Regions from separate parts of the Homo sapiens genome. Here region 1 is linked to region 2. Evidence: fine-mapped expression QTL. A gene starts in region 2. The other region holds a variant in brackets. All regions are shown on one strand. Distances are from middle to middle.

Region 1 (5,367 bases), 25 kb after region 2:
CAGCTGTCGGGGTTGTTGAGAGGACCACGTGCATTGATTTCTTCAAGGAGCTTTGTCCGGCATACAGCGCTCACTTAAGTGATGGCCGGGGCCCCAGCCTCCCTCCTGGCCCAGGGGGAGGGGCTGAGCGGGAAGTGGAGGTTAATTTTAGCCCTGATGACACCCGCTGGCCGCCTGCCTTGTCCAAACATCCCCAGCCAGGCGTGAGGTTCAAAGTGTCCCCCCACCCCCAGCCTCTGACATCCAAGGAGCCTGTTTATTCATTCTCGTCTGCGGCAGCATTCTTTGCCTGCCTGTGCCTGCCACCCGGCCTCCTCCATCTCCAGCCCTGCGAGGTCCTGCCCTGTGTCACTGGGGGTGAGGACTACCTCACCTGCAGATTCCCCTGAGGCAGGCTGTAATCTCTGGGGTGGTCGGTGGGGGGTGGGGAAGGGGCAGGGGGAGGGTCACTCCTGCCCCAGAGTCCAAAGATCTTCAGTCTTCGTTTATAATTCTCCAAGTGGGAGTTCAAGCTTCCATCACAGACAAGGACATTTATTCAGCACCTGTTTACTGAGTGCCTACTGGGTGCCAGGTCATACTGGGGACCCAAGCCCTGCCCCATGAGCCGCCCAATCTGGGGAAGACACTGACAAACCAAGAAATAAACAAGATCTTTTTTTTTTTTGAGACGGAATTTCACTCTTGTTGCCCAGGCTGGAGTGCAATGGCACAATCTCGGCTCACCACAACCTCCACCTCCCGGGTTCAAGTGATTCTCCTGCCTCAGTCTCCTGAGTAGCTGGGATTACAGGCGTGCACCACCACGCCCGGCTAATTTTGTATTTTTAGTAGAGAGAGGGTTTCTCCATGTTGCGGGGAGTGTATGGAGACGCCACCTTGGGAAGAGATGCGCCAGAATTTGCAGTCCTCTCCCTCCCTGTTGGAGTACCCTGGAGGATAGAAATTTTTCCCTACCCGGAGTCTCAGAATGTTCCAAAGACCTCAACTGGTCTCAAACTCCCAACTTCAGGAAGTCCCCCCACCTTGACCTCCCAAAGTGCTGGGATTATAGGCCTGAGCCACCGCGCCTCACCAATTTTTTTTTTTTTTTTTTTTTTGAGACGGAGTCTCTTGCCCAGGCTGTAGTGCAGTGGCGCGATCTCAGCTCACTGCAACCTCCGCCTCCCAGGTTCGTGCAATTCTTGAGCCTCAGCCTCCCAAGTAGCTGGGATTACAGGCGCTCACCATCCCGCCCAGCTAATTTTTCTATTTTGAGTAGAGACAGGGTTTCACTGTGTTGGCCAGACTGGTCTCGAACTCCTTACCTCGTGATCCACCCACCTCAGCCTCCCAAAGTGCTGGGATTACAGGCGTGAGCCCCTGTGCCTGGCCTATTTATTTTCGCTTATTTATTTATTTATTGAGTGAGTGAGTGAGACAGAGTTTTGCTCCGTCGCCCAGACTGGAGAGCAGTGGCGTGATCTCATCTTACTGCAACCTCCACCTCCAACCTCCACCTCCTGGGTTCAGGTGATTCTCCTGCCTCATCCTCATGAGTAGCTGGGATTACAGGCACCCACCACCATGCCCAGCTCATTTTTTGTAAGGCTCTGCCCTTGTTCTGAAGTCAAATCTCAACACTGTCTCCCTCTGGGAGGGGGAGTGACCAGAGGCTACAGCTGGGCTGAGGGACTGAGTGGCTGCAGGTGGATACCAAATATAAATTGAGGTCTTTGGAACATTCTCAGAGTCTGGGTAGGGGAAAATTTCTACTCTTCAGAGAACGCCAACAGGGACAGAGTGGACCGTAACTCCTGGTGCATCTTCCCAAGGTGAGTGGCATCTCCATACACTCCCTGCAGGGCTGGCCCAGGTGCCCAGGTCGCTGGCTCTACTGGCTGTAATTTTTGCCGATGGAGAGACAGGTGCTTAGAAACCTTGAAAACATCGCCTGAAAACAAACCAAGAAAATTATGCTTTTTGGCCCGGTGCGGTGGCTCACTGCTGTAATCCTAGCACTTTGGGAGGCCAAGACAGACTGATCACGAGGTCAGGAGATTGAGACCATCCTGGCTAACACGGTGAAACCCCATCTCTACTAAAAATACAAAAAATTAGCTAGGCGTCGTGGCGCGTGCCTGTAATTCCAGCTACTCGGGAGGCTGAGACAGGAGAATCACTTGAACCCAGGAGGCGGAGGTTGCAGTGGGCTGAGATTGTGCCACTGCACTCCAGCCTGGGCAGGCGACAGAGGGAGACTCCGTCTGGAAAAAAAAAAAAAAAGGAAAGAAAATTATACTTTTCACCTCCAGGTTCCAACAGACCACCTCCTAACCGTTTTCGTTCTCGGAAATACCTTCATTGGGCCGGGTGTGGTGGCTCACGCCTGTAATCTCAGCACTTTGGGATGCCGAGGCGGGCAGATCACTTGAGGTCCGGAGTTCGAGAACAGCCTGGCCAACATAGTGAAACACCATCTCTACTTAAAATACAAAATTTAGCTGGGCGTGGTGGCGGGCATCTGTAATCCCAGCTACTCGGGAGGCTGAGGCATGAGAATTGCTTGAACTCGGTAGTGGGAGGTTGCAGTGAGTCGAGATCGCACCACAGCACTCCAGCCTGGGCGAT[G/A]GAGCAAGACTCAGTCTCAGAAAGAAAGAAAGAAAGAAAATACCTCCATTAGCTTTTCTGATTCTAAAATTGCCACTCGCACACTTCACAAAACCTTTCCAGAATGAGAGAAAGGCCTCTTTGTTCCCCGGCCCCATGTATTCCCTGGAATTTTCTCTCCCCGGGCAGGGAGGTAAATGCTATTGTTATTTTTTCACACACAAGGTTTTGCAATGGGCTTTATTTCCACTCCACAATAGATGGCCCCACAGCTTTTATTTCTAGAAATTGGAAAATGAAGCGTGTCCAGCCCCCGCCTCTTCACCCACCACAGGCTGAAATTTAAGCTGCATGAACCCAGCTGGGCCTGGGTACCAGGGGTGGGCAGACCTCAGCGTGTTGGTGCCAGGGGACCCGGGGGTGAGGCCAGGGTCAGGTTTCTAGGGGGTGCCAGGTTTCTGTCACCGTCACCTGGGGCTTCCCGCACTCCCTGTCTGTTTAGTGGCCCCAGCACCATGTAGATGAGCAGGGAGAGGCTGAGTTCTTACAAGTATTACAGGAGGGGAAACCGAGGCCCGCAGAGGGCCAGGGACCCAGGCCAAACATTCCAGCCTGTAGAGGGGGTACGCAGAGACCCTGTGGGGCGGTGGGAGGATCAGCGTGACCTTCCAGGTCACCTCAACCTCCTGAAGAAGGTGCCGGCAGTGGCTCCACTCTACAGAGGAGGTGGCTGACGCCCAGAGAAGTTGAGGAACTCATCCAAGGCCACACAGCTGCCAGAGGTGAAAGTCGGTTTTCTGAAGATCTCAGGGTCAAGAACTCCAAAGTCAGGCAAGTCCCCCATAGAGCCCTGCTCCACCACTTAGGGGCTGCAGGTGGCTTCTGACTGTAAGTGAGGATATCTGGAACATTCTAGTGTTGGGGGAAATTGCTGCTCTCTGGAGAATGCCATGGGGGACCTGGTGGTGCAGGGTGGTGGTGACTCCCAGGTGCTATCTAAGCCTCGGTTTCCCCATCTGTACAGTGGACATGCAGAGGTGCCTGTGATGGCTCCCCCAGGCCCAGGTAGAAGGGTGGAGGGGCATAGGGTGGGGAAGGTGTGGGGGGCCTGAAGAGTCTCTGCTAAGCCCCCTGGTGACTCCGGGCCTGAGCCAGCCTTGCTGGGCCCATCACTCACCTGCCACACACACCACCCACCTGGGCCCCTCTCCCCACCACCTGGCTGCAAGCCAGGGGTCCTGGGAGGGGGATGGGGCCCTCGGCAGGCCAGGCCAGGGCTTCCTAACAGGCTGGGGCAGGCCCAGTCCCCAGGGGGTAAGAGGTGTGGGGACAGGCTGCTCTGTCCCCTGATGCCCCTGGAGCCCCCGTGGTCTCCGCCTCTCCCTGAGCTGATGTCAGAGTGAACAGCTCCCTTTCCCAACTTCTCTTTCTCTCCCTCTGGAATTTCCTCTGAGGCTTAGAGGGACATGGAAACCCTCCTTGGGTTCCACAAGGGCAGAAGACCAGCCACCTGGCCAACATTGGGGGACCCTGGCCTGCCCCCTCTGGAACACCAGCACTGCCCTCAACCCCCCATTGTCTCCCCATGTGCCCCAGATCTCACATGTGGTTCATGGTGCACCCAGCCCAGCCTATGGGGCCTTCTCCCTCCTCCTGAGCGGCAGCTGCCCTTGGCTCCCAGCCCTTAGGCCCCAAGGGGAGAGAAATTTCCAGCAGGCTGACAGCTTTATCACCCACCCAGCCCAGGCTGAGGGAGGAGCTGGGGTGTCCAATGAAGACCAGGACCCCAACGAGGGGCACAGATGGCCTCACCGCACCCCCCAAGCAAGTCTCAGCTCATCTGAGCCAGAGGGAAGAGATCCTCGCGGCCTGAGCCTAGAATCAGGGGCACGGGTGGTTGGAGGAGCCAGTAGAAAGGATGATCTGGCTGGGAGGGCAAGAGAGCCCCTATCTGGGGAGGCTCCCTGGAGGAGCTGTTTTCACCGAGCCCTGAAGGATGACTGGGAATTAAGCAGGAGGCAGGGGGCAGAGAGTACAGCTGTCCAACTGAAGACAGCCTGGTGCGATTGAGACTCCCAGTGACTTGAGTAGTGAGCGCCCTCTCTCAGGACCTGTCTTCACATCCACAGGACAGCTGTGTGGGATGGAAGCGTTGCCGGTCCAGGCTTGGCTGGGGCTCCAGGACAAAGTCACACCAAGACTGAGAGCCCCATGAGTTATGTTTTTTTGGGTTTTTTTCTTTTTGTGATGGAGTCTCACTCTGTCACCCAGGCTGGAGTGCAGTGACCCAATCTTAGCTCACTGCAAACCTCTGCCTCCCGGGTTCAAGTGATTCTCCCGCCTCAGCTTCCAGAGTAGCTGGGATTACAGGTGTGCACCACCACACCCGGCTAATTTTTGTATTTTTAGCAGAGACGAGGTTTCACCATGTTGGCCAGGCTGGTCTCAAACTCCTGACCTCAGGTGATCTGCTCACCTCGGCCTCCCAAAGTGCTGGAATTATGAGTGTGAGCCACTATACCCAACTTCTATGAGTTATGTTTTAATCAGTCACAGACAATGCCCCCAGCGAGGACATGAACAGAGAACAGACTCAGGTCATCCCTTCTGGAAATGGCTTGCCTGGGAGACCGCAGTCCCTGGCCCAGCCCTGGCCAGTCGATCCTCCCCACTGGCCTGGGCCTGGCTGGGAACTGAGACGGTGAAAGTCTGGGGCAGCATGAAACGGCCTCCTGGAAATTATTTCTAGAACAGGGAAGTCGTGATACCTGAAGGTGA
Region 2 (5,367 bases):
GCAACAGAGCAAGACCCTCTCTCAAAAATAATAGATAGGCATGGTGGCTTAGCCTGTAATCCCAGCACTTTGGAAGGGTGAGGTGGGAGGACTGCTTGAGCCCAGGAGTTCAAGACCAAACTGGGCAACAGGGCAAAACTGTCTCTACAAAAAAATACAAAAAATAAGCCATGCGTGGTGGTGGACGCCTGTAGTCCCAGCTGCTTGGGAGACTGAGGTGGGAGAATCACCTGAGCTCCGGAGGTCGAGGTGCACTCCAGCCTGGGCATAGGAGTGAGGCCCTGCCTCAAAAATAATAAATTTAGGCCGGGTGCGGTGGCTCACCCCTGTAATCCCAGCACTTTTAGGAGGCTGAGGCGGGCGGATCACCTGAGGTCAGGAGTTAGAGACCAGCCTGCACAACGTGACGAAAACCAGTCTCTACTAGAAATACAAAAAATCGACCGGGCGTGGTGGCGGGCGCCTGTAATCCCAGCTACACGGGAGGCTGAGGCAGGAGAATCGCTTGAATCTGGGAGGTGGAGGTTGCAGTGAGCTGAGATCACGCCACTGCACTCCAGCCTAGGCGACAAGAGCGAAACTCCGTCTCAAAAAAATAATAATAAATTTTAAAAGTTAAAATGCTGATATGATCCCCTCCTCCCCTGCTGAAGAGCCTGCTATGGCTCCCAATGCCTACGCTGGGCGGTCTGTGGTCCCTGCGTCGCTCAGCACCTGTGGGAAAGTGGGCCTGTTTGAAGTTAGAGGTCCACACCTGTGTCACTTCTCGCAACTTTACATACTGATTACTAATTCGAGTTTTTTGGTGTTTTTATCAATCCGATACTCAGTCTAGCGTCTATACAAGTGCACACGGTTCCCCCTGCCCTTCCTCGCTTTCCAGCCTCGGCTCTGCCTCCGCCTACCGCCTCGGTGAAGTCCACCTGGCCGGCCCCGGGCCTCACCGGTCCTTGGCGCGACCCAGTTCGTCTAGGGCGGCGCGCAGCTGCTGGTCGTGGAGGGCCAGGCGCTCGGCTTGGGCGTGCACCGTGCGCTCCGCCGCGTCCAGCCGCGCCTCCAGCTCCGCTGCGCGCCGGTGCACGGCTGCCAGGTGTGCGTTTGCCTCCCGGATCTGCAGGGCCGGCGGCGCCGACATGGCCCAGGCTGCTGTACAGGCCCGGCCACGCCCCCAGGCGGCCCGGAACTGGCACAGGCCCCGCCCCCGGGAGGGCCCCGCCCCACTAGACCTCGGCGCGATTGGTCGCTGACCCCGCTAGACCCCACCCCAGAGGGCTGGGTCGTGCTCTCCTCAAACCCAAACACTACCACCGGTTCCGGGATCATGAAACTCCGCCCCTGAGTTTGGGCTCACTCTAGGATTGGACAAGATCTTGACAGCCACGCCCCCAGGCTGGCCACATCCTTTGGCGGCTCGCGCAACTCAGGCTCTGGAAACAAGATTGGTCACACCTTCGATACTGTCCCCTCCCTACTTGGAAGCTAACACCAGGATTGGCCCGGACTCCGCGAAACAGCAAGCCTGACCACGCCCCCCGAACCTGTGGCCTGTCAGGGGTAGATCCAGGCACGGCCTCGCCCCTTCATCCCTTATACAGTCTCAGATTGGTCAAGTCCCTTTTAGGTTATGCCTCCAATTCTAGCCACGCCCCCAAGTCAAGCGCCTGTGTACTTCATCCGGCCTAGGGCGTGGGACAGCCGCGGGGTGAACAGAGGCCACGTCCCGCTGAGCTTCTCGTATTGTCATTGGTCACTTTCCCGATAATCCCCGCCCCTGATCCTGTCCACGGCCCAAAACAGTAGCACGCTGCTCAGACTCCAGCTTGGTGACTGACCACAGGGCATGACCACTCGCTATGCAGATTCTGACACTGGGTGTGGCCACATCCCCGCCATGCCCCGCCCCCCAGTCATTGTTTCGTCATGTCTTGCTCCTATCAACTGGAGTCCCGCCCGTCCCAGTCTGAGCCCGGCCCCTCCCCTAGTAGATAGTCCCCGCCTCTAGTAGTCCCTAACCTAGGACTCCCTGAGCTGGGACTAGCGAAATCTGTCTGCACTGATCGCAGTCGTCCTCAGTTTCACCCTCTAGGAATCGGCCTGGGGATGCACGTGCTACTCTCTTCCTCCAGGCCGGTCCCCGGCGCGTGCGCGCGATCCATGTCCATGTCCGCGCCTATCAATAAAGTTGCTCACTTGTTGCCGGCCCGCTAGCCCGAAAGGTTGCGCGCGCAGCCCGAGAAGTCTCGCGATAGCCAGCCGCGGCTGCCCTTGCGCTTCCCGAGCTGGCGGGGTCCGTGGTGCGGGATCGAGATTGCGGGCTATGGCGCCGAAGGTTTTTCGTCAGTACTGGGATATCCCCGATGGCACCGATTGCCACCGCAAAGCCTACAGCACCACCAGTATTGCCAGCGTCGCTGGTGAGCGCCGGCCGGGCCCCGAGGGTGGAGGGCCGAGGCCGCAGGGAGGTCGTGGGGTTACTGGGGGCTGTTTGGATCGAACGGGTCTGGGAGTCTCGCGGGTACGCACGTGGTTGTCATCGGGGTGTCTTGGGCGGTCGTAGGGGGGGATCTTGTGTGAAATGGATGTTGGTAGGGGGTCCAGCAGGGTTGGGGAGCACTGGGAGGTCGTGACATGCGACAAGCTAGTCCCTGGGGTCATCTGAGGCGGTCCCAAGCTATCGCCAGGCTCGGGGAAATTGTGGAGTGAGACAGGGCTATTATCAGGTCCAAGGAGCTAAGGGACCACGAGACTTTCCAACGGGGTAGAGATTGTTAGAGGGGATCATGAGTCATGATTGGGGCATCTGAGGGCGGTACAGATGTTTGAGAAAGTTTTGGGGTGGGATGAGGTCTTTCTGTGGTCAGGGGGTGCTGGGTGGTTAGGGACACCTGAAGCTTTTACTGGGACCGCCAGAGAGGTCCTAGGTGAGGTGGATCAGGAGCTACTATGAGGGTAGCCTTGCAGGGGAATGAAGGGGACCCGCAAGCCCTGGCATTCTCCTTTTTTTTTTTTTTTTTTGAGACAGAGCCTTGCTCTGTCGCCCGGGCTGGACTGCAGTGGCGAGATCTCGGCTCACTGCAACCTTCACGTCCCTGGTTCGAGCAATTCCCTTGCCTCAGCCTCCCAAGTAGCTGGGATTACGGGCTCACGCCACCGCGCCTGGCTAATTATTTTGTATTTTTAGTAGAGACGGGGTTTCACCGTGTTGGCCAGACTGATCTGGAACTCCTGGTCTCAGGCCATCCGCCCATCTCGGGCTCCCAAAGTGCTGGGATTACAGGCGTGAGCCACCATGCCCGGCCGGCCCTGGCATTCTCTTATAGAGTAAATCTGAGTCTTGCCCCTTCCAGCCTGAGCGTTTCATGGGCATCATGCCCTTTAATTCTCAGCCACAGGTTGGGACTCATCAGGTCCCAGATGGAGCTGGAAGTCCTCTTCCCTCTGATGAAGAATCTTTACAAACTGGGCCAGGCGCGGTGGCTCACACCTGTAATCCGGCGCTCAGGAGGCCAAAGTGGGAGGATCGCTTGAGGCCAGGAGTTCCAGACCAGCCTGGGCAAAATAGCAAGATCCCCATCTCTGCAAAAAAGTAAAACAATTAGCTGGGCATGATGGTGCGTACCTGTAGTCCCAGCTACTCAGGAGGCTGAGACAAGAGGATCACTTGAAACCAGGAGTTCAAGGCTCTAGTGAGCTATGTTTGCACCACTGCACCCCAGCCTGGGCGACAGAGCGAGACCTTGTCTCAAAAAATAAAAATAATAGGCCGGGCATGGTGGCTCACACCTGTAATCCCAGCACTTTGGGAGGCGGATCATGAGGTCAGGAGATTGAGACCATCCTGGCTAACACGGTGAAACCCCGTCTCTACTAAAAATACAAAAAATCAGCCAGGCATGATGGCGGGTGCCTGTAGTCCCAGCTACTTGGGAGGCTGAGGCAGGAGAATGGCGTGAATCCAGGAGGCAGAGGTTGCAGTGAGCCGAGATTGTGCCACTGCACTCCAGCCTGGGCGACAGAGTGAGACGCTGTCTCAAAAAACAAAACAAAACAAAACCAGCCGGGCGCGGTGGCTCACGCCTGTAGTCCCAGCACTTTGGGAGGCCGAGGCAGGTGGATCACGAGGTCAGGAGATCGAGACCATCCTGGCTAACACGGTGAAAACCCGTCTCTACTAAAAATACAAAAAAAATTAGCCGGGCGTGGTGGTGGACACCTGTAGTCCCAGATACTCAGGAGGCTGAGGAAGGAGAATGGCGTGAACCTGGGAGGCGGAGCTTGCAGTGAGCCGAGATTGCGCCTCTGCACTCCAGCCTGGGCGACAGAGCAAGACTCCGTCTCAAAAAGAAAAAAAAAAAAAAACCCAAAGAAACAGTCTTTACAACCTGGTGTGTCTATAAGCTGAGGAATCAATTTGGTCAACTCTGTATTTCCAGCATATGTGAAACAGGGCCCGGCCAAAGTTGCGGCTCCATTGGGAGGCATTTGAATTAGGGCAGACCTAATCATCACTCCCATATTTTGCATATTTATTAATAGTAAGACAGACGTTATTGTGTCTCCATTTCTTACAGGTAGGGACTGAAGGTTGGAGAAGCATATTAACTGCTCCAGGGTCATTTGAAGCTGGGCTGCAAGTCCAGGTCGGCTGACCTGCTCCTAGGGGTCTCTGAAGCAAGGAATGTTCCCATCAGGTCCTTATCGAGGGTCTTCAAGAGAAAGGGCTGAAGGGGGCCACCCAGGGGATAGGATCTGAAACTGAGAAAGACGCGTATGTTGGTGTTCATGTGAGAGAGTGTGTGCATTCCTCATGTGTGAATACAAAATGAGTGGGCTGCGGTCTCAGGAGGCCTTTGGAGGAGACAGCTTGTCTCGGGGTGTGGTGCTGCTGAGTGAAGGGCCTCTGAGACCGGGGGTGCTCCCCAGAGGGTCTTAGAAGGGGAGGTCAGAACTTTTGACAGAGTTGCCATGTCAGGAGATCGCTGATGGCATCAGATTTAGATTTAGGGGTGCTCAGTGGCTTCTGTGAGCCCTCCAAGGGTGCCCCGGGGTCTTTGAGAGTGACATTCATTCTCCCTAAATTTTTCTTTTTTCTTTTTTCTTTTTTTTTTTTTTTTTGAGACGGAGTCTCATTCTGTCACCCAGGCTGGAGTGCAGTGGTGCGATCTTGGCTTACTGCAACCTCTGCCTCCCAGCAATTCTTGTGTCTCAGCCTCCCAAGTAGCTGGGATTACAGGTGCCTGCCACCGTGCCTGGCTAATTTTTGTATTTTTAGTAGAGACAAGGTTTCGCCATGTTGGCCAGGCCGGTCTCAACCTCCTGACCTCAGGTGATCCGCCCGCCTTGGCCTCCCAAAGTGCTGGGATTACA

What was found. PIP is the estimated chance that this variant, and not a neighbour inherited with it, causes the effect. A credible set is the group of variants that fine-mapping cannot tell apart.
Region 1: its variant is the best candidate, but not a certain one, in a credible set for the expression of NDUFA11 in spleen (GTEx, PIP 0.85).

The regions. Positions count from the first base shown.
Region 1 is chr19:5,875,591-5,880,957 of GRCh38, reverse strand. No RefSeq gene overlaps it. Among named protein-coding and RNA genes, the nearest start is that of FUT5, 7.7 kb to the right of the region's middle. The variant G/A (reference allele first, on the strand shown) is at 2,611.
Region 2 is chr19:5,900,659-5,906,025 of GRCh38, reverse strand. It overlaps NDUFA11 (NADH:ubiquinone oxidoreductase subunit A11), which reads left to right and starts at 2,236. Exons shown (of 4, transcript NM_175614.5): 1 at 2,236-2,414. The coding sequence starts at 2,318. It overlaps VMAC (vimentin type intermediate filament associated coiled-coil protein), which reads right to left and starts at 1,154. Exons shown (of 2, transcript NM_001017921.4): 1 at 945-1,154. The coding sequence starts at 1,135. RefSeq lists a silencer at 971-1,320 and enhancers at 1,361-1,480, 2,054-2,348, 2,158-2,804.